Linked DNA regions of Homo sapiens. The protein of the gene in region 1 purifies or fractionates together with the protein of each later gene. This does not show direct contact. Each region holds a gene or a part of one and is shown on either strand. Other genes may lie near its edges.

Region 1 (5,137 bases):
AATCCCACCAGGTGGGCAGCAAGCTGACGCTTCCCACATGGGCAAATTCAAGCAGTCACCGTCGCTGGAGTGTGTGTGTTGTAAAGGCACCAGGTCTTACAGAAACTACAACAGCCAGAGGACAGTAAGAGGCTAAGAGGAGTAAAGCTTACAAGTTTAATTTCCTGAAAATATCCACTCCCTCTCCCATCGGTCCTGCAAAGAGGCTGCACCTCTCAGCTACTCAAAAGACAGGACCAGAGACGTTCTCTCCTCCTGACAAAACTGTGCCACACAGCTCTGTGCAGCCCACGGAGTCACACATGTAGGAAGCTACCCTTGGACTACAGGCAGCACCGCAGGTGGCCCATGCAGGTTCCCAGGCCCGACCTCCCCACACCCCTTGGAGCTCCCGAGGTTTCTATGGGTGTTTGAGAACCACGTTACAAGTTTTAACTTGTACACGTTTTTTGCTTGTTTTTGTTTCTTTTTTTGAGACGGAGTTTCACTCTTGTTGCCCAGGCTGGAGTGCAGTGGCGCGATCTTGGCTCACGGCAACCTCCGCCTCCCGGGTTCAAGCGATTCTCCTGCCTCAGCCTCCCAAGTAGCTGGGATTACAGGCATGCGCCACCACGCTCAGCTCATTTTGTATTTTCGATAGAGACGGGGTTTCTCCATGTTGGTCCGGCTGGTCTCAAACTCCCGACCTCAGGTGATCCGCCCGCCTCGGCCTCCCAGCGTGCTGGGATTAGAGGCGTGAGCCACCGCGCCCGGCCTCTTGTACAAGTTTTTACACCACATGAAAGGCTACCCCGTAGCCGCTATTCCCTAAGCCATGCGGCCTTTCGGATCTCTGGAAACACCCACATCTGCGGCCGTTCCTCGGCTTGGCGGTGCTCCCCACCTCTAAGGCACCTGCAGGCTTCGCTGCCGGTCACCATTACCCCCCGTCACCCCACCCCATGCATGCTGCGACACCCCTGACATCAGCACGTCGCACGAGAACAGGCTTCAAGACACGGGGTCAAACCGGACGACTGACAGGGAGGAAGGCCTCCATGTTAGAAAAGCTGCCAATTCAGACAGCCCTTAAGAACCGCCCCTCCCCAGGCGAGAAGGAAAACACCGTGCTAAGAAAGATGCCAGCTCTTTATTACCAGGGAAGCTGTGTGCACGCGCGTGGAGCGCGCTCCTTGGAGCTGACCGGGCCCTTACCTTCTCCTGCTTGTCAGAGGTGAGTCCTGGTACCCAGCACGGTGGCCTCCGGGAGGCTTTGATAGGTCAGCCTTTGCTGCCTCCCAGCTCAGGGCTCCTCCAAGGAACCTGCGGGGCCCCATGTGCCCACAGCCCGAGGAGGGAAGCACCGACCGCCCTCCTCGTGGCACGCTGCACTCCAGCGCTGGGCACTTCACCTGCTTCCTGGCTTGCGGTGGTCAGGCTCGATACTGACTCCACTGATCGGCACATTGAGTTCCAAAAGAATGCAAACCGCGTGGGTGCTGTGGCGACATTGTTTGCACCGTTTATACAACCAGACAGCTTTTTAGACTAAATTCGTGTCCAAACTAACACGCACGGGAACGGGCTCCAGCTGCAGCTCCCTGGGTCTGTCAGGCCGGGGAGCGGTTCTACCGGAAGAGCCGGTACGTCCTGGGCAGGCGCCCGTCCTTACTCGACAGGGCGGTCTGGATGTGCTCATACGTGGGCAGGTCAGTCAGGTCACCCAGGGCGGCCACTGCCGGCTTCCCTCGGAGCATCTTAGAAGCGACTCTCTTCACATCTTCCGGCTTCACGTTGCCTAGTGCAGAGGGCAAACGCGTGTCACACGAGCGCGCCACGGCCCCCACGCTGAGGCTGCATCAGTAAACACACGGAGGGGGCGGCTGGTCTGTACCACTCACTCACGCTGTGCTGCTGATGGGGGCACCTGGGCCCAAAGGCAGCCACTGGGTGTAGCCAAGGGTGAGTCCACAAGTGACAGACGTTGAGTTCTCAGTAAATGGGGACATGGCAATGACTTAAAAATATAGGACAAAGCCACCCAAGAAGAGTTACACTTACAGAAGAGCGAGCTCCGTGTCTGATGAACTCACTTTAGGACGGCCTGCAGAAAAAACCCCCAGCCCCCGAGGGCCGCATGGACAGAAGGGTGGGGTGAGAGAAGGCCAAAGGGCTGCACCCAGGAACCCCAGGACAGGAGTGATAGGGTCCAGGTGGGTCTGTTTTCTACAGAAAACGAGGCCCGAGAGAGGCTGGACACTCGCTTGAGGATTTAAGCGGGGGCTCCTGAGGGAAGGACGAGGGCCCACACGGGACAGGGCAAGTGCCCGGGACTCCAGGCCTGGAAAGGAGATGCCCACAGGTGACACCATAAGCCCGAGCCACCCCAACGTAATAGGCAGCCTTGCCAGGTTTTAAGCCTGTCCCCCAGAAGAGTCCGATGCACATACAACTTGGCAGTTTCAGGAAATTCAGACCTCCTAAGGTCACTCATGGGGGCCCCGGAAACCTGGGGCTGAGACTCCTGCCCGAGAGCCAGCAACGGTACAGCGGCATTCCGAGCCACTGCTACTCCACGTACAATGTAGCAGTCCTCTACTGAGCCCTTCTCGCCTACTAACTTGAGTGCTCTTTAACAACTCTGGGCAGTAGTGACAGCCCCTCCCAGGGGTGCAGAGGGTGGGGTCACCTGCCAAGGAGGCAGCAGGTGCATGGTGGGGCCGGGAAGTGAGACCAGGTCTGCGACCCCACGACCCTGCCCTTGGCCGCCCCTGCTGAGGACAACTGGTGAAGGCCCCAGATTCTGGGTGTGATGGACATACCACAGGCCCACCACGGCCTGCGGGAGGGCGAGACGGCCTCCTCTGAGCCTGGCCGAGGCCTGCGGCAGCCCCTCACTACCCCTGCGGTACTCACGGATGAGCGTGCACAGCTCGTGCGGCAGCTTTCTGGAGCGAGTGGCCAGCACCTGCCTCCCCACATCCTCGAAGATCACAGGCCTGGATTCCAGGTTCATCATGAGCATTGATGTCAGCTGCGTCTTGGCTCGTTCCAGCTCCACCTGGGGCCAGGGTCCAGTCAGGTGAGCACACACCCGCCCCGTGCCACCTTCCACCCCCCACTCGAGCAATGGCAAAACGCCATCTCTGTGCCCAAAGCTGAACATAAGAAAGGGAAGGGCAGCCGGGCGCAGTGGCTCCCGCCTGTAATCCCAGCTCTTTGGGAGGCTGAGGCAGGCGGATCACGAGGTCAGGAGATTGAGACCATCCTGGCTAACAGAGTGAAACCCCTTCTCTACTAAAAATACAAAAAGAAATTAGCTGGGCGTGGTGGCGGGCGCCTGTAGTCCCAGCTGCTCAGGAAGCTGAGGCGGGAGAATGGCATGAACCCGGGAGGCGGAGCTTGCAGTGAGCCCAGATCGCACCACTGCACTCCAGCCTGGGCGACAGAGCAAGACTCTGTCTCAAAAAAAAAAAAAAAAAAAAAAACGGGAACCCAGGCCCAAGTCACAGGCAACCCTGCTGGTCTCCCCTTCAGGTTTTTTAGGGAAGGGCTGTGCTACGTGTTACCCGGCTTCTACCACACTTGAAATACAGGAGCAATGTGCCTCCCTTGAGTTCTTCATTGTCTGTGTGACATGCAGCGGGAGAAGGTAAAATAGTTAACTCCCAAATGCCAGGGCCCCAAAGTGGCCACACGGCAAAATCGGGGAAAACAAATGAAACACAGGTTCTGGGGCTTCCCCAGACGCCTCCGGCGCAGGGCCCAGGCAGCTGGTTTTAGCAAAGTCCCTGGGAGGTTCTGAGGGAGGCAGTGCGGGTCCTAGGCTGCCTTCAGACTGTCTCAGGGCACAGGCAGGGGTGCTGTGAGAAGGACATGCAGATCTAGGAGCCAGCATACTGAAAAACAAACACCAAAAACTGATGGGCCGCAGAGATGCTACACTTTTTTTTTTTTTTCTTAAATAGACACAGGGTCTTGCTATGTTGCCCAGGTCAGTCTTGAACTCCTGGGCTCAAGTGATCCTCCCACCTTGGTCTCCCAAAGTGCTGGGAAAACAGGCATAAGCCACCGGACCTGGCCTCTATACCATTTCTTTTAAGTAAAACAATTCTTAGGTCTTTTTGCAACTTTAGGCAAATACCTAAATACTTCATATTTATTTCAAGTTGACTTCACGTTAGTGGAGGACTGTTTTTCTAGCAGTGCACTAGTGGAACTGAAGCGTATTAATTTAACCACAACTTTATTTCTTGAATGCTTTTTTTCCTGGCCGGGCACGGTGGCTCACACCGGGATCCCAAAGTAATCCCAGCACTTTGGGAGGCCAAGGCAGGTGGATCACCTGAGGTCAGCAGTTCAAGACCGGTCTGGCCAACGTGGTGAAACCCTGTCTCTACTAAAAATACAAAAATTAGCCATGGGGCTGCGTGCAATGGCTCACACCTGTAATCCCAGCACTTTGGGAGGCCGAGATGGGCAGATGACTTGAGGTCAGGAGTTCAAGACCAGCCTGGCCAACATGGTGAAACCCCATCTCTACTAAAAATACAAAAAATTAGCCAGGTGTGGTGGTGGGTGCCTGTAATCCCAGCTACTCAGGAGGCTGAGGTAGGAGAATCACCTGAACCCGGGAGGCGGAGGTTGCAATGAGTTGAGATCATGCCACCGCACTCCAGCCTGGGCAACAGAGCAGGACTCCGTCTCAAAAAAAAAAAAAAAAAACAGAAAACAAAAAACAAAAAAATTAGCTAGGGTGGTGACACATGCCTGTAATCCCAGCTACTCAGGAGGCTAAGGTAGGAGAATCACCTGAACCCGGGAGGTGGAAGGATGCAGTGAGCTGAGATCATGCCACTGCACTCCAGCCTGAGCAAGACTCTGTCTAAAAAAAAAAAAAAGTGTGTGTATAAAACTTGCTTATTTGTACCACTTCTGGTCCAGGAAGTAACGAGGTTCCCAAATGTGTAAAGCATCAAAAACTAAGCTTAAAAAATTAGTAAACAGGGACGCATGGTGGCTCACACCTGTAATTGTAATCCCAGCACCTTGGGAGGCCAAGGCAACGGATCACTTGAGGTCAGGAGTTTAAGACCACCCTGGCCAACATGGCGAAACCCCGTCTCTACTAAAAATACAAAAATTAGCCAGGCATGGT
Region 2 (6,856 bases), on another chromosome or scaffold:
CCTGCCTCAGCCTCCCGAGTAGCTGGGATTACAGGTGTCCGCCATCACATACCTGGCTAATTTTTGTAATTTTAGTAGAGATGGGGTTTCAGCATGTTGGCCAGGCTGGTTTTGAACTCCTGGCCTCAAATGATCCACCAGCCTTGGCTTCCCAAAGTGCTGGGAATACAGGCGTGAGCCACCACGCCTGGCCCACTTTTTAAAAAGTTGAAACCTGTCACCTAAAAGAAGGGAAGGAGAAAGAGTGGATTTCACACCTAGGGCCTCCATTTGCTTTATGAAAACAGCCCCTTGTCATTTGGGTCGTCAAAAGATGTCTGAGGGCACTAATACGCTTAAAGGATCAGCCAGGAAATAGGGGCCTCTCAGGTGACAAGGAGGCACAACCCTAACCAACCCCGATCTGTTCTCAGCTTCACAGGAGGCCCTGTTTTGAGAGGTGCATGAACATGTGGCTCACGTTCAACAACAAACACTCAGGAGAGGGGACAGAATGTTCAGGACACACCGGTGAGAGCAAAGGAAGCTGCTGCTGGGCTGGGGCTGCTGGGAAGTCTGAGAGGTTCTGTAGCAGGACACTCACTCGCTGGTGGCTGTCCCCGGGTGTCACCTAAAACCGCCAGGTCAGAAGCACCTTTTCTCCGGTTGGCTCAGGAAAACTGACAGACTCAGGGATGGAATTTTTTTCTTTTCAGAATTTCCAAGACGTACAGATCTCTCCAAGCATCCCAAAAGGCGTATGTTCCTGGTGGGGCCGAGGGCCTGCTCTTGGAGACAGATGGCGAGCAGCGGTCAGCAGCTACTGAGAGCTCAACTTCCCCTCTAGAGACAGGCTCTGCCGCTCAAGTCCACCTGGGTCTTGGCTCTCTGAATCCTGTCCGAGGGTGGCGAACTTGAGGCCCTCCTCCCTGCCCCCAGTGTCTCACCTCTGGGCAGTGCTGCCCACCCTCCTTCCTACCTCGAGTGAAGAGACAGGGGCAGGTGGCCAGCCAGGGGGGTGTTCAGTGACCTCACGGGTCCAGCATGCACAGGGCCTGGCCCCACAGCCCAGCACCCCTCCCCACCTGGCCTTCACAGTTTCTTCTGCACCTGGTGACAGGTGACATTCACCTGCACGACACTCCCGCGAACCTGGTGACGGACTGGCAGCTCGGTGAATTCCAGCTGAGTGCCTGTGATTCCACCCCCTTACCTCCCACTCAAGTGACAATGTAAGCGTGACCTCGAACTTGACCTCGTTTGTATCTATTCCTCTCCCAGTCACATTCCTGTCAGCCCTCACCATCCACCCAGACCGGGTTACAGAACACACAGGTGAGCCTGGGGCCGCAGGTTTCAAAAACTCACTTTATTCCAATGTGAAATGAGGACGTGATGGTTTAAAAACAAGAAAAAGTTCTTGCTCAGCGGTGGGGATGCTCTGCTTGCCCGCTCACGCCCATCCCCCTTGAAACAAGGTGTCTGGACGGACCACACCCATAAGCGGCTCTCCGCAAACCCAGGCAGACGCCCGTCTCCTCCGGGTCTCAGGGTGGCCACATCCTCCCCCACCAGGGCTCTGACAGCAGGCACAGAGCAGCAGCACGGGCAGGGTGGAGCGGGAGCAGCGTGTGGGGGCCCCCGCCACCCCCAGAGCTAGTCTCAGACCAGGAAGGGAGCTGGGCACCAGAGAAGCGACATCACGTCGGCACCTGTAACTCCCGGGATCCGTAATTGGGCCCCGCTTCCCCCAGCCTCGCCCCCGGCCCACTGTGCGTTCGGCAGCTCAGGTTAAAACTGAGGGGAGGGATACATTCAGACCGCAGGCCCCAAGGCTGCGCCCAGCTGGGTGCAGGGAGTAGGGAGCCGAGTCAGAGCCACCCACTGGGCTCTGAGGGCCCAGCAAGCCAACCCCGACCCCTCCGTTCGGGAGCAGCAGCCAGACCACGCCAGTCACAACGGCGGCTCCCGTCCCGCCCCAAACTAAAGTGCACCCCAGCCCTCCAGCCCCGCCACAGAGCTCCGGCTCCCCACCCCTCCCCACCGGGTTTTTCGGCCTAAACCCTGAACTTTCAGACAGGCTGGGCCCGGGGGTGGTGGCAGCCAAAGCAGCAGCCATCATGTCGACCATACAAATGACCTGAGAAATCCCGTCTGCGCGTCACCCACTCAGGAGTCACCCACTCAGGACTGGCTCGGGCTATGTACAGGGGAGAGGAACGGTCAACACTCACAGCCAGGGGCGCACTCGCACACGCCGGCCGGACGGCGGGGGCCGAAGCAACACCTGCCCCCCAGCCGGGAACTGATGGCCGCACACGCCATTCACGTGTCTCCAATGGGGCCTCTGCATCATCTATTCATTGAACCAGCGCAAAAACACCTTCTGCGGGGCAGGCAGGCCAGGCTCCCAGGAGGACACGGGGGTGGGGTGGGGTGAGACGTGGAGGAAGAGGGCCTTGCTTCCTCTTCCGCCCGCAGGCTCGCCCCCTTCTCCCGCAGTCGGGCTCCCTGGTGACGGGGCCGCTGGCTGGCTGTCCGTCTGGCTCCCTCTCTATCCCTGCACGCTCGGAGAAGGGTCCTTGGCAGCCGGGGGCTGGGAGCCCAGGTCTCCTGGGGCCCCCGCTGGCGCGGGCTCGGTAGCCATGGGCTCCTCGGCTCTATCCCTGTTTCTGCTGGCCTCCTGGAGCTGGTGCCGCCGCGCCACCTCGGCTTTCAGATTCTCCAGGTCTTTTTGGCTGAGGATAAGGGTGGGGATGGAGGTGGCTCTCAGAGGAGTCCTGGGGGCTCCACCCGCCTCCCGGCTTTCCTGTGGGATAAGCTCAGGCTCTGCGCTCTATTCAGTGGGGAATGTGTGTGAACAAGCGCTTCCCTCCTGAAGGCGGAAGGTCCCTGAACACGGAGAAGGTAAGGACCCCGCACCTGACCCGGCCTCGGGGCTCCCCTCGCTGCCCTCGGTGGCCTCCCTCCAGCGCAGGGGGAGGAAAGCGGAGTTGGGGGGCTGCTGCCACGCCTTGCTGACCAAATCCACTCCCCACAGGAGGCCACACTGCTTGTGGCCACCCCGGGGAGCCCGGGGCCTGCTCCTCAGCCCCCCCCCGCCGCAGGATGGGAAGCGTGGGGAGGGAATGAAGCCGCTTCTTAGGGACTGGTGGGAAAACGCCAAGATACTTTGTGTGAAGCAGAAACACCAAGGTCTTCACTCGCGGAATGCGAGGATGCTGGGGAAGATAAGCGGGGCGGGCCGGGCGCGATGGCTCACGCCTGGAATCCCAGCACTCTGAGAGGCCGAGGCGGGCGGATCGCAAGGTTAAGAGTTCGAGACCAGCCTGGTCAACGTGGTGAAACCCCATCTCTACTACAAACACAAAAATGAGCCGGGCGAGGTGGCGGACACCTGTAATCCCAGCTACTGGGGAGGCTGAGGCAGGAGAATCGCTGAACCCGGGAGGCGGAGGCTGCAGTGAGCCGGGATGGCGCCGCCGCACTCCAGCCCGGGTGACAGGGCGAGACTCCGACTCACAAAAAACCCCCAACCGGGAGACACTCGAGTGGGGCGGAGGCCTCACCTGAGAGGAATGAAGAGGATGCCGTTAATGACGTTCAGCTGCTCCAAGACGCTGGCCATGCTGGGGGCCGTGAACTGCGGGGCGGGGAAACCAGCGGTGAGCGGGGCTCCCGCGCTCGCCGGGCCGGAGGGGCCGCTCCGCCCCGGACTCACCTTGAGGGGCGGGATGTTGGCGCTGGAGCCGTTGCGGTAGATCTCGTTCATGGTGCGCTGCAGGGCCACGGCCTGCTGGGTCAGGCACTTGAGGTACTCGGAGCTTTCCTTGGTCTTCTCATGGTCCTCGCCCAGCTGCGGGGAGGCGGGAAGGGATCAGGCCCCCCCGTGCCCCCGCGGCCCCGCCCCCGCCCCGCCACGCCCCCGCCCCGCCCCCGCCCCCGCCACGCCCCCGCCGCGCACCTGCGTCTTGTAGATGGTGTAACCCTCCTTCTCGTGCTGCAGGGCCGACCGGAACTCAGCTTTGCTCTCGTAGACTCGGGCGACAAGGTGGTGGCTGCCGGGAGGCGCGGCGCGGGGCGAGGGAAGGGCATAAGTGGGCTGGGTGTGGGGGCCTGACTCGGGGGCCCGGGGTCTCCCGTAGATCCCTCCCTGGAAGCCACCGAGGGGAACAGCAAGTCCAGGGCTCAGGGAAGAGGGGGAGGTCGAGAGAAATTTTCTCGGGTGGAGGAAGACAGGAGCACTGGGTCTCTTCCCCGCCCCCGCCGGCTGCCCCGCAGGCCTCCGCCGGCCTTGGCGTTTGGACGGGCGGCCCCTCACCTGAGGGCCACCTTGAGGGCCTTGGGCCCGTGGTACTTGGTGCTGACGGCCAGCGCGTTCTCCAGGAAGCGCAGCGACAGGTCGTACTCCATCACCCCGTGCAGCACCAGCCCGATGTTGTTCTGGGGGCAGGCGGTGGGGGGCCCTGGTCAGCTCCCGGTCCCCTGGGATGGAGCTGGGTCCCTGCCGCCCCCCCGCCCCAGCACTCACGTCCAGCAGCGCCATCTCGGGGTGGTCTTCCCCGAACACCAGCAGCATGAGGTAGCGGGCGCGGTACAGCAGGCTCAGGGCGGTGGACAGCTGGCTGCTGGCGAAGCAGTACAGGGCCAGGTGCATCTGCGGGCGGGGCGGAGACAGGTCAGGGTGGCCGCGGACCCAGCCCCTCGCATCCCCCGGCGCGGGCGGCACTCGCGACTCACGTATTCCTGGATGGTGTTGGGGTGCTCGGTGCCCATCACCCGCTCGCTCATCAGCACCGCCTTCTGCTGGTTACTCAGGGCCTGGGGAGAGACAGTGGTGGTTGCCGCGGCGTGGGAACCCCCACTGCACCCAGAGCCCGCCTGGCCCCGGCCCAGCAGCCCACGGTGCCGCTCTGCAGGCTCCTGTCCCCTCCGGCTGCGCCCAGCACAGTGCAGCAGGGGGGAGGGGGATCAGCAGCAGCTGCTGCCACACCTTGAAGGGCAGGTCACGCTCCACAGAGAGCTCCACACACCCATGTCTTACACCCAACAAAATCTCCACAAACACCCAAATACAAACCTAAAACTACTAAAAATGTTACAAAAAAAAAAAAAAAGCCTGAGCAGGGGTGGGTCCCTTGAGGTCAGGAGTTTGAGACCATCCTGGCCAACATGATGAAACCCCATCTCTACTAAAAATACAAAAATTAGCTGGGTGTGCTGGCTCACGCCTGTAATCCCAGCTACTCGGGAGGCTGAGGTGGGAGAATCGCTTGAGCCCAGGAGGTTGAGGCTGCAGGGAGTCGATATCACGCCACTACACTCCAGCCTGGGTGACAAAGCAAGACCCTGTCTCAGAAACAAACAAACAAACAAACAACCCACCCATTTATAAACAGAAGAAAAAACAGTCCCTTTGCAGGGAGTAGGGATCCTAAGACATGCTAACCCTGAAACAGCCCTGGCCAGGCAGGGCACCCAGAACCCCACCACAGCCTCCACCAGCCCCGGCCAGGCAGGGCACCCAGAACCCCACAGCCTGCACTGGGCACAGAGGACGTGGGAGCTCGGTGGCATGCTTCCTGCCCACTCACGGAGTCTCAGGAGGCGTCCTTGCTGACGCCCTGTGGGGGGGTCCCCTGCCATCGCCTCCCAGAACTGACCTCACCGCAGCACAGGGTGCTCCTGAGCTCTCCCGCTCGGGACACAGTTACAGAGGGGTGGAGCCAGGGGTGGCCTGGGCAGAACCAGCGACTTCCTGGGGTCTCCCTGGACTCCACCCACTCCTCCGTCAGGGGCCCCCTCACTCCCCATCCCCCAACACGAGGCCAGGCCTTTGCTGCCACAGCCCAGAGGGTACCTCTGCGTAGTCGCCCATGATGTAGTGGAGGCGGGCGAGGAGGCGCAGGCAGGCGCAGGTCTCCACGTGCATGGCTCCGTAGACGTTGTTAAACAGGTTCAGGGCCTCATTGATGAGCTCACAGCCCTCCTTCAGGAAGCCTGCAGGGCACCCCCAGGGGTGGCAAGGTCAGGACGGGCCATGGGGAACCCCCACCTCCACCCAGCCCCACCTGGCCACACACCCTGCTGCACTTTGGCCTGCCCGCTCTGGAAGAAATGGAAGGCATCCGAGGCCTTGGGGTTGACGTGCTTGACCACGGGGAAGATGTTGAGCACGTCCTCCTCGGTGAACGCGGGCTTGTGGCGACTGTCGAAGCTGTACTCCTTCAGCAGGACCTGGGGGGCAGCCCCCCCACCACAGGAAGCCTCAGGCCCAGGTTCAGCGGGTTGGCACCTCCCAACCCACCAACGCTTGCGCACAGACGGCTACCGTGAAAAAGCCACTTCCCCTGTGGCCCTGGCCAGGAGTGGGAGCCTGCAGCAGGGACGCAGCGGGGACACAGCGGGGACACAGCGGGGATGCTGTGAGCCATGCCCACCTGGATCCCTGTTTTCAGCGAGATCTCCCGCAGGAGCGTTATCTTCTGCAGGCCGTAGGTCTCCACAGCCTGGTCCACGGTCTCACTGAGGAGGGAGCAGGGGGCCTGAGCAGCCCAAGCACCGCCGGGCCCCCCCAACACCGCCCCACCCAGCTCCCCAACGCTGTCCAGCCCGGGCCCCCAACACTGCCCCACCCGGCCCCCGGGAGCCTCCCGGCTGCCCTCACCCTCCAGCACCCAGTGATCTCCACAGCTGCTCCCTCTTCTCTCTGACTCCCTGGCCTATGACCACAGGCCTTAGACGCCATCTGGGAGCAGGTGGTGGCCGCCTCATCTGCCCAATCCCACCCACCCCACCGCCCCTGCCCCGCACGCACCACTCGAGGTCGAAGTCAAAGTAGTTCTTGGCCTCCTGGCAGATGTTCTTCCAGAGCTCC
Region 3 (7,995 bases), on another chromosome or scaffold:
CTAGCCTTGGGCAGGCAGAGAGGTCTAGCCCAGGGCAGCAGGGGTTATCCTGTCATCCACCAGCCAGGTGCAGCCACAGGGAACTCAGGTCTCAACAGGATTCTCTTGAGCCTTGGGTTCCTTAGCAAGGTGCCCACCAGGTGGGGTGAGCAGTGTTGGAGTCGGCAGCAGCCCCTTCACCCCGCCTGTATTGTTCAGGCGTGACTCTGGTTGGGGAAGCCCTCACCACCTCGCTGTGCTCCCCAGGTATGCCTTCCACAGCTCGGCCTGGCTGGTGGCGGGCAAGGCAGACCCAGCCACACCTGGCCGCGTGCACTTCCACCCCGACTCGCCAGCCAAGGGTGCCCAGTGGATGCGCCAGATTGTGTCCTTTGACAAGCTCAAGCTGACCAACAACCTGCTGGATGACAATGGCCACGTGAGGCCGGGGCCACGGTGGGGACGGAAGGGCCTGGGGTCAGGGCTGGTAGGGACTTTGGTGTCCAATGGCCTTGGTGCCCAGCACCTCTGCCTGCTGCTGATGGTCAAGGCAGGGCGGGGAGCCGGGGTGGCGAGCTCACCTGGCTGGGGGTGGCACAGCAGGAAGGGCTGTCCAGGCAGGTGGAAAAGGGGGTGGGGGCGGGGGAATGTTCCAGCATACGTTGTCCCCCGCAAGGAGAGGGAGGACAAGGTATGGAACGCCCAGCCTAGGCCGGGCCCGCTTTATGTGTGGACACAGCATCATTAACACTTGGTCAAACAGCCAACGATCCCTGCCCTCACAGAGGTCACTTCCTGGGGCAAAGGCAGGGTCCAGAAGACACTGTCCCCAGCGTCTCAGATAGGGACAAATGCCAAAGAGGAAGCAGAGGTACGGAAGGGGGGCGGAGAAAGGGTGCTGCTGCTCTCAGGGGGCGCAGGGAGCTGAAGACCTGAAGGAGGTGGAGGATGCAGCGGCCCATGCCCGTCAGAGGGGACAGTAGGTGCAAAGGCCCTGAGGCCAGAGAATCCTGGGCCGGCAGAATTGCAAGACGCATCCATGGGGCCGGAGTGGAGCCAGGAGGGGAAGCCAAGGAGGCGAATGCCTGAGGGGTCGGGCTGACTTCGGGGGGCTCTGGCTTTTACCGTGTGGGGTGGAAGTCGCTGGACGGTTAGGAGCAGGGGGCATATGATGTGGCTTCCCGGGCAGCTGTGTGGAGAAGGAACAGAGGGGTAAGGCGGGGACAGGGGACAGGCCAGGAGGCAACCGAGGAAACTGGTGAACGCGACAGTGACGGGCCAGCACACAGGCAGTGGGTGGCAGCTGGGATGTGGGGTGTGAGAGGACATGGAGGCAAGGATCCATGATCCAAAGGGGCCTTTGACACGGAACTGCAGCCTCTCCAGCTCAGACCCTGTGCTGCCATGAAAGGAACAGGGTGGCAGGCCCAGGGCAGTCTCCCGGCTTGGAGGGAAGGACTCCAGCCTCAGGGAGTCCGCTGTACTCCGCCTCACCCCTGTACCCCTGCTCTGTCCCTTCCACAGATCATTCTCAACTCTATGCACCGCTACCAGCCCCGTTTCCACGTGGTCTTCGTGGACCCACGCAAGGACAGTGAGCGCTATGCCCAGGAGAACTTCAAGTCCTTCATCTTCACAGAGACCCAGTTCACAGCAGTGACAGCCTATCAGAACCACAGGGTGGGTGAACCAGCTCGGGAGCACCCGCTGCAGGCCCATTTCACAGGGGTGGAGACTGAGCCCTGAGGCTTGCAGCCCTCACTGGCACAGACTACTGCCCTCCCAACTTGCCCTGAGTATCTGCCATCAGTCAAGGCCCTGCCCGCACTCCTATCAGCTCAGAGTTCCTGGGCCAAGAGGCCCAGGTGCCAGGGCCTCCTGACTGCCGGTTCCCGGGAGGACAAGGTGGCTGAGCCTGGCTCATGGCCAGCCCACAACTGCACTTTGTCTCCTGCAGATCACCCAGCTGAAAATCGCCAGCAACCCTTTTGCCAAAGGCTTTAGAGAGAGTGACCTGGACTCCTGGTACTGTCTGACCCTGACCCTAGCCCCTCACCCCCACCCCAGGCATATCCTAAGGCCTCAGTTCCTGACCCTTGTTTCAGGGTCACACCCTCTGACCCATCCTGGGGCCCCACCATCTGAAGCTGGCCATGATCCCTGGCCTGGGTTCTTCCCCTTGATCCCCTCCCCCCATTCTCGCTTGCTCTTTCAGGCCTGTGGCCCCACGGCCCCTGCTCAGTGTCCCAGCCCGGAGTCACAGCAGCCTCAGTCCCTGTGTGCTGAAGGGTGCCACAGACAGGGAGAAAGGTAAGGCCCCAGGCCTGCAGACATAGTGGGACTAAGGTGTACACAGTGGGCGGAAGGCAAAGGGACAGGACCTCCAGGAAGGGGCTTCAGCAGCTCAGCGAACCCACAGGGCCCCTGTGTGGACACACGGAGGGGGAAGCAGACATGCCTAAGACAATATGGGGCTCAGGGCAAAGAGCACAGGCAGGGGGTGCCAGGCAGGCTTCCTGCAGGAGGTGGCTCTCAAGCTGGGCCTTGGAGGACTGGGAAGGGTTTGGACAGAGGGAGAAGGTGAAGAAGAAATTCCAGGCAGAGGGAAAAGCAAAGGCGAAGGCTGAGAGGTAGGTAACTTGGGAAGGAGGAGCAGGAAGGGACCAGGGCAGGCCTGGGATGAGGGATGAGGATGCGATGGGAGGCCCAGAGTCCACTCATTTCCTCCCTCAGACCCCAACAAAGCTTCAGCTTCCACCTCCAAGACCCCTGCTTGGCTCCATCATCAGCTGCTGCCCCCACCTGAGGTCCTGCTGGCCCCGGCCACCTACAGGCCTGTCACGTATCAGAGCCTGTACTCTGGAGCCCCGAGCCACCTAGGGATCCCAAGGACCCGACCAGCACCATACCCCCTCCCCAACATCCGGGCTGATAGGGATCAAGGAGGCCTGCCTCTCCCAGCTGGGCTGGGGCTCCTGTCCCCCACTGTGGTGTGCCTGGGGCCTGGCCAGGACTCCCAGTGATGCCAGAAGCCCTGGGGGGAAGCCCTGCTACCCTGGACCTTACACCGGGTGTGGGAATCAGCCTCTGCCCCGCCCCCTCCAGCCCCATCTCTGTCTCAAGGAGAGCAGGGTAGGTGAAAGTCTAGAGAAAGAGGCTACCTGCCCAGGGTCACAGCAAGGCTGGGACCATGGCAAGCTTGGAACCAGGACTTCTATCTCCCAACCCCAGCAGCCTGAATACTGTGCCCTCTTGCTTTGGGGGTAACTCCCGAAAACCCTGCCTTACCTCTCCCTTCCCCCTAACATTAAACTATTTGGCATGAGTGGTCAGAGCACTTCTGTCGTCGTGGTCAGGGTGGGTGGGGGCCTCAGGAACTCCCAGACCCATCATAGTCCCCACATCAGCCCTGTAGGCATCCCGAAGCTCTGCCCAGTGCCGTCCGCATCCCTGGGAGCACACAGTAATATTAAAAGTGGTGACTCCAGCCCAGTGGCAGGGCTGCACTTGCCCAGATGAGGATCGAAACTGGCGCTCAGAGAGGCGCGGGACCTGCTCAACGTCACACAGCAGAGCATGGCGGACACCCGCCACCCCACGTTTAAATGCTGTGCGCAAGGCTGGGGTCATCTGGTCCCCAAGCCCAGGGTCTGGTGGAAGGGCGCAGAACCACGGTGGTCAGTGACCACAGGGGCCGAGGTAGGAAAGGGGGAGGGATTTGGGAATCCGGTCAAGACTCAAGGCAGGAAGGGAGAAGAGCTCTGGACGCTGGGACAAGGAGGTCAAAGGCCTGGGGCTGGAGTCCGACGGAGCCAGAGGGGAAGACAAGACTGGGGGCGGCGCGCGCCACCCAGCGGTATCGGGAGGGAGGACCGGAGGGAGGGCTGGGCCGGACGCTCCTCTCGCGCACCGATCGACCTCGGGTTCCTGGAGGGGCGTCCCCGTGGGATCCCGGCTCCGTACATCCTGGAGCCCCTAGGGGAGGGACGGACCAGTGGGGGCCGGCGGGGCCTCATCAGACACCCCAACGCCAGGACCCAACGGGACCGAGGACGGTCGCCGGGCGCTTCACGGTTCGCGTGGTTTCAGGATCTCGGAGAACACAACCGGCAGGTCCTGCAGCTCCGCGCCCATCTCCCTCCCCGCGGCCACACCCCCGGCCACGGCCCGGCCCTGCCGGAAGCACAGTCCTCCTGGCCACGCCCCCCAGTCCTTCGTAGCAAAAGCTCCGGTCCAGGCCCCGCCCCCAGCCCGCCCCAACCTCGATTGCCTACTAGGCCCCGCCGCCCTTTGGCAGTAACGTCCGAGTCCGGCTCCCGCGCAGGCCCCGCCCCGCCCCGCCCCGCCGCCCTCCGTCCCTCCCATCCGGGGGACTCAACGCGTCCCACCGAGGCCCCGCCTTCAAACAGGCCCCGCCCCCTAACGGACCCCGTCCCACCGAGGACCCGCCTTCAAACAGGCCCCGCCCCCGAACAGACCCAGTCCCACCGAGGCCCCGTCTCCGGGAAGGCCCCGCCCACGAACAGACCCACCCCACTGAGGCCCCCCGACGCCGCTGCCGCTCTGCAGCCCCCCAGGCGGGACGCGTCGCGCGGGCTGCCCCTTCTCCCTCTCAGCTTTCGGAGGGACCCGGGCTGAGCGCCCCGCCCCGCCTCGCCCCGCCTCTTCCCTCGCCCGATCCCGCGCCCTCAGTGTCCCGGCCGCGCAGGACTTGACATGCTGCCCGACTGCCTGTCGGCCGAGGGCGAGCTGCGCTGCCGCCGGCTGCTGGCAGGGGCCACGGCCCGGCTCCGCGCGCGGCCCGCGTCGGCCGCGGTGCTCGTGCCGCTCTGCTCAGTGCGTGGGGTCCCGGCGCTGCTGTACACGCTGCGGTCCAGCCGCCTGACCGGGAGGCACAAGGGCGACGTCAGGTACAGCGGCCGGGAACTCCTCGCCCTTTGCCGGAGGCTACAGGAGCCCGGGGCTGGCAGGGACCTCTGGCAGGGCACTTAGCCCCTTCGAGCCTCGGTTTCCGCCTCCGTAAAATGGGTCTGGGGAGAGTCCCTCCGCCCAAGGGCTGCAGCGAGAGGTCAGCGATCCGTGTCCGTCGGCCCCGGTGCACCTGCCGGGGCGCCACGTCCTCGCCGCGTGGGCCCCTCGTACGCGTCCTTGCGCGCACGCCTGGGCCGGGACACCCCTTTGAGCTGTTTCCCGCTTAGAGGGCGGACGCCGCCCCCTGCCGGCGACTACGGAGAGGTTCGGGCCCCGCCCGGCGGGAATTAAGAACATCCTGAGGACAATGTCAGTGTTGCTGGGGCCACCATAGGCCGAATTTGGGTATCTGAGCCCCAGGATCTTCTTGCCCCTGCTGCAGACCCTCTTATCCTGCGCTGTCCCGGGCCTCTCTTCCTTATCCCCATTGCTCAGGGAGGTAAACTGGCCTCCAGAGGTCGCATGGCTTGCCTGGGGCCTCCCAGTAAACTAGGGGCAGAGGCAGGCGACACTTCGGTGGGCCAGTGGCCCCCCCCGCACTGCCGATACCCCGACCTCTCCGTGGCCCCAAGAGTCCAAGGACCAGACTCCTTGTGTCTGTTTAGTTTCCCAGGCGGCAAGTGCGACCCGGCTGACCAAGATGTGGTGCACACGGCCCTGCGGGAAACCCGGGAGGAGCTGGGCCTGGCAGTGCCCGAGGAGCACGTGTGGGGCCTGCTGCGGCCTGTGTATGATCCGGTAAGCCACTTGGCTGAGGCCACCCCACCCCATTCACTCACTCTGTGCCTGCCCTGGAGCTGGGCTACCAGGGACCAGGAGAGTGGTCATGGACCCCCACGGGCACAAAGTGTGGAAGGGTGCCCCTAACCTGCCTGGTCACATGCACCACCCCACACACCCCCTCGGGAAGGGATTGGGGAGGCTCTGGTGTCCTGAGTAGAGGTGGCCCAGGGCGATGGGGTGGGCCAGCTCCACTCAGTTTGGTGGATTAGGGTCAGGGAAGCTTCATGGGGTAGGCAGGGATTGAACCCAGGCTTGAATGCCAAGTGGGAGATTGTCCTAAGCAGAGGGAACAGGTCTAGTGCATTTGAGGGGACCTGAGTCAGTCAGCATGGCTGGAGGACACAGGCAGGTGGACCCGAACATGACTACCAAAGGCCTATGCATGGCAAAGGGGTCTTCCTCTCACACTCCCCTCCCCAGCCTTCAAACCCAGCGAAGGCCATGCTTCCCTGACCACCTGCCCTCTTCCCCAGCAAAAGGCCACCGTGGTGCCAGTGCTTGCTGGTGTAGGCCCACTGGATCCCCAGAGCCTCAGGCCCAACTCGGAGGAGGTGAGCTGGGGGATATGAGGGGGTTGGGCTGTTCCAGTCCTCTGTCTACCCTCTCTGCCTCCTGCCTGCAGGTAGATGAGGTGTTTGCACTGCCGCTGGCCCACCTGCTGCAGACGCAGAATCAGGGCTATACCCACTTCTGCCGGGGTGGCCACTTCCGCTACACACTACCCGTCTTCCTGCATGGACCACACCGGGTCTGGGGCCTCACAGCTGTCATCACTGAGTTTGCCCTGCAGCTGCTGGCACCTGGTACCTACCAGCCCCGCCTGGCCGGCCTGACCTGCTCAGGGGCTGAGGGTCTGGCCCGCCCTAAGCAGCCCCTGGCTTCACCCTGTCAGGCCAGCTCCACTCCAGGACTGAATAAAGGTCTTTGACAGCTCTAGAGCTCTTGCTTCTGCTGTACTGGGGCCTTGACCTTGGGCAGACCACTCCAGGTCGCTGGCTGGGGCTCCTCCTTCCAGTCACGCCATGCCCCACAGCAATGGACACTTCCTGGGTGCCAAGTACTTGGAGTCAATTCATCTCACCCTCACAACAGCCCATAAGGCAGGGCCAACACTGTCTCTGGCTGGTGAGACTGCTTTCAGGGAGGAGAGACACCTTGCCTAAGGGCCCCACGCTGGGATTGGAACCAGAGCTCTCAGACTCCACAGCCCAGACTCTTAGGCACTGCACTGCCCTGTCTCAGCCTGCACCTCCTGTTCTCTCTGCTGTGCCTGGCTGACGCTGTGCTGGGCTCCGGGATCCCAGAGAGGAGTAAGGCGCACCCATGCCCCTGGGTGTTACTGCAGGAGTCTAACATGCAGAGCCCCTGTGTGTGCCAGCTGCTGTGTGGGGGCCACAGCTGTGGACCGGTCAGATGCTCACCTGCCGTCCAGAGGGGGTGCTCAGTCTAGGGGAGACCTCAGACCAGGTCACACAGATAATCATGTGGTTCCACATTAATTAATCACAGATAATAGTGGAATTATATAAGACATCAACTAGGTAGACCAGGGTTCTGTGAAAGAGCTGAGGGAGCGGGTGGTCTGAGCTTGCCGTGGAGGATGGCTGGATCCAGGGGCTCGGGCTCCCCTCTTGCTGTGCTTTGCGCTGTGCTGGCCTCAGCCCCAAGGAGGTTGTCTGTAGTGCAGAGCGTGAGAGGTTGAGGAGAGGGCAGCAGCATCCATCAACAGAAAACACGGCCGCTCCTTCCCGGCCAGTCTAACCTAGAATTGCACTTCACTGGCCTGCCTTGAGTCACATGTCCTTCCCTGAGCCTGTCACATGGCCGGTTGTGTGTCCGGAATTGGTGGGTTCTTGGTCTCACTGACTTCAAGAATGAAGCCATGGACCCTCACAGTGAGTGTTACAGCTCTTAAGGTGGTGCGTCTGGAGTTTGTTTCTTCTGATGTTCGGATGTGTTTGGAGTTTCTTCCTTCTGGTGAGTTCGTGGTCTCGCTGGCTCAGGAGTGAAGCTACAGACCTTTGTGGTGAGTGTTACAGCTCATAAAAGCAGTGTGGACCCAAAGAGTGAGCAGTAGCAAGATGTATTGCAAAGAGCGAAAGAACAAAGCTTCCACAGTGTGGAAGGGGACCTGAGCGGGTTGCCACTGCTGGCTCGGGCAGCCTGCTTTTATTCTCTTATCTGGCCCCACCCACATCCTGCTGATTGGTAGAGCCGAGTGGTTTGACAGGGCACTGATTGGTGCGTTTACAATCCCTGAGC

Evidence for each region. The genes of interacting proteins can lie anywhere in the genome.
Region 2: the proteins of PMPCA (region 1) and CLUH purify together in Homo sapiens (affinity purification with mass spectrometry; 2 studies listed by BioGRID and IntAct, with this or other methods). This does not show direct contact.
Region 3: the proteins of PMPCA (region 1) and NUDT8 purify together in Homo sapiens (affinity purification with mass spectrometry; 2 studies listed by BioGRID and IntAct, with this or other methods). This does not show direct contact.

The regions. Positions count from the first base shown.
Region 1 is NC_000009.12:136,419,735-136,424,871, reverse strand, and holds the end of PMPCA (mitochondrial-processing peptidase subunit alpha isoform 1 precursor), read right to left. Parts: intron 3,041-5,137; coding exon 2,896-3,040; coding exon of another isoform or gene 2,612-2,895; exon of another isoform or gene 1,788-2,611; intron 1,778-1,787; coding exon 1,608-1,777; 3' UTR 1,111-1,607; downstream 1-1,110. UniProt on the Homo sapiens protein: Substrate recognition and binding subunit of the essential mitochondrial processing protease (MPP), which cleaves the mitochondrial sequence off newly imported precursors proteins.
Region 2 is NC_000017.11:2,688,061-2,694,916, forward strand, and holds the end of CLUH (clustered mitochondria protein homolog), read right to left. Parts: coding exon 6,797-6,856; intron 6,505-6,796; coding exon 6,420-6,504; intron 6,217-6,419; coding exon 6,063-6,216; intron 5,980-6,062; coding exon 5,840-5,979; intron 4,860-5,839; exon of another isoform or gene 4,801-4,859; coding exon 4,720-4,800; intron 4,637-4,719; coding exon 4,511-4,636; intron 4,423-4,510; coding exon 4,301-4,422; intron 4,038-4,300; coding exon 3,944-4,037; intron 3,836-3,943; coding exon 3,701-3,835; intron 3,623-3,700; coding exon 3,549-3,622; intron 2,718-3,548; coding exon 2,534-2,717; 3' UTR 1,327-2,533; downstream 1-1,326. UniProt on the Homo sapiens protein: mRNA-binding protein involved in proper cytoplasmic distribution of mitochondria.
Region 3 is NC_000011.10:67,626,612-67,634,606, reverse strand, and holds NUDT8 (mitochondrial coenzyme A diphosphatase NUDT8), read left to right. Parts: upstream 1-4,669; 5' UTR 4,670-4,695; coding exon 4,696-4,889; intron 4,890-5,555; coding exon 5,556-5,688; intron 5,689-6,206; coding exon 6,207-6,284; coding exon of another isoform or gene 6,285-6,302; exon of another isoform or gene 6,303-6,355; coding exon 6,356-6,661; 3' UTR 6,662-6,669; downstream 6,670-7,995. Other genes in the region: T-box transcription factor TBX10, read left to right, coding at 247-418, 1,504-1,659, 1,937-2,004, 2,195-2,289, 2,713-3,002. UniProt on the Homo sapiens protein: Acyl-CoA diphosphatase that mediates the hydrolysis of a wide range of CoA and CoA esters yielding 3',5'-ADP and the corresponding 4'-phosphopantetheine derivative as products.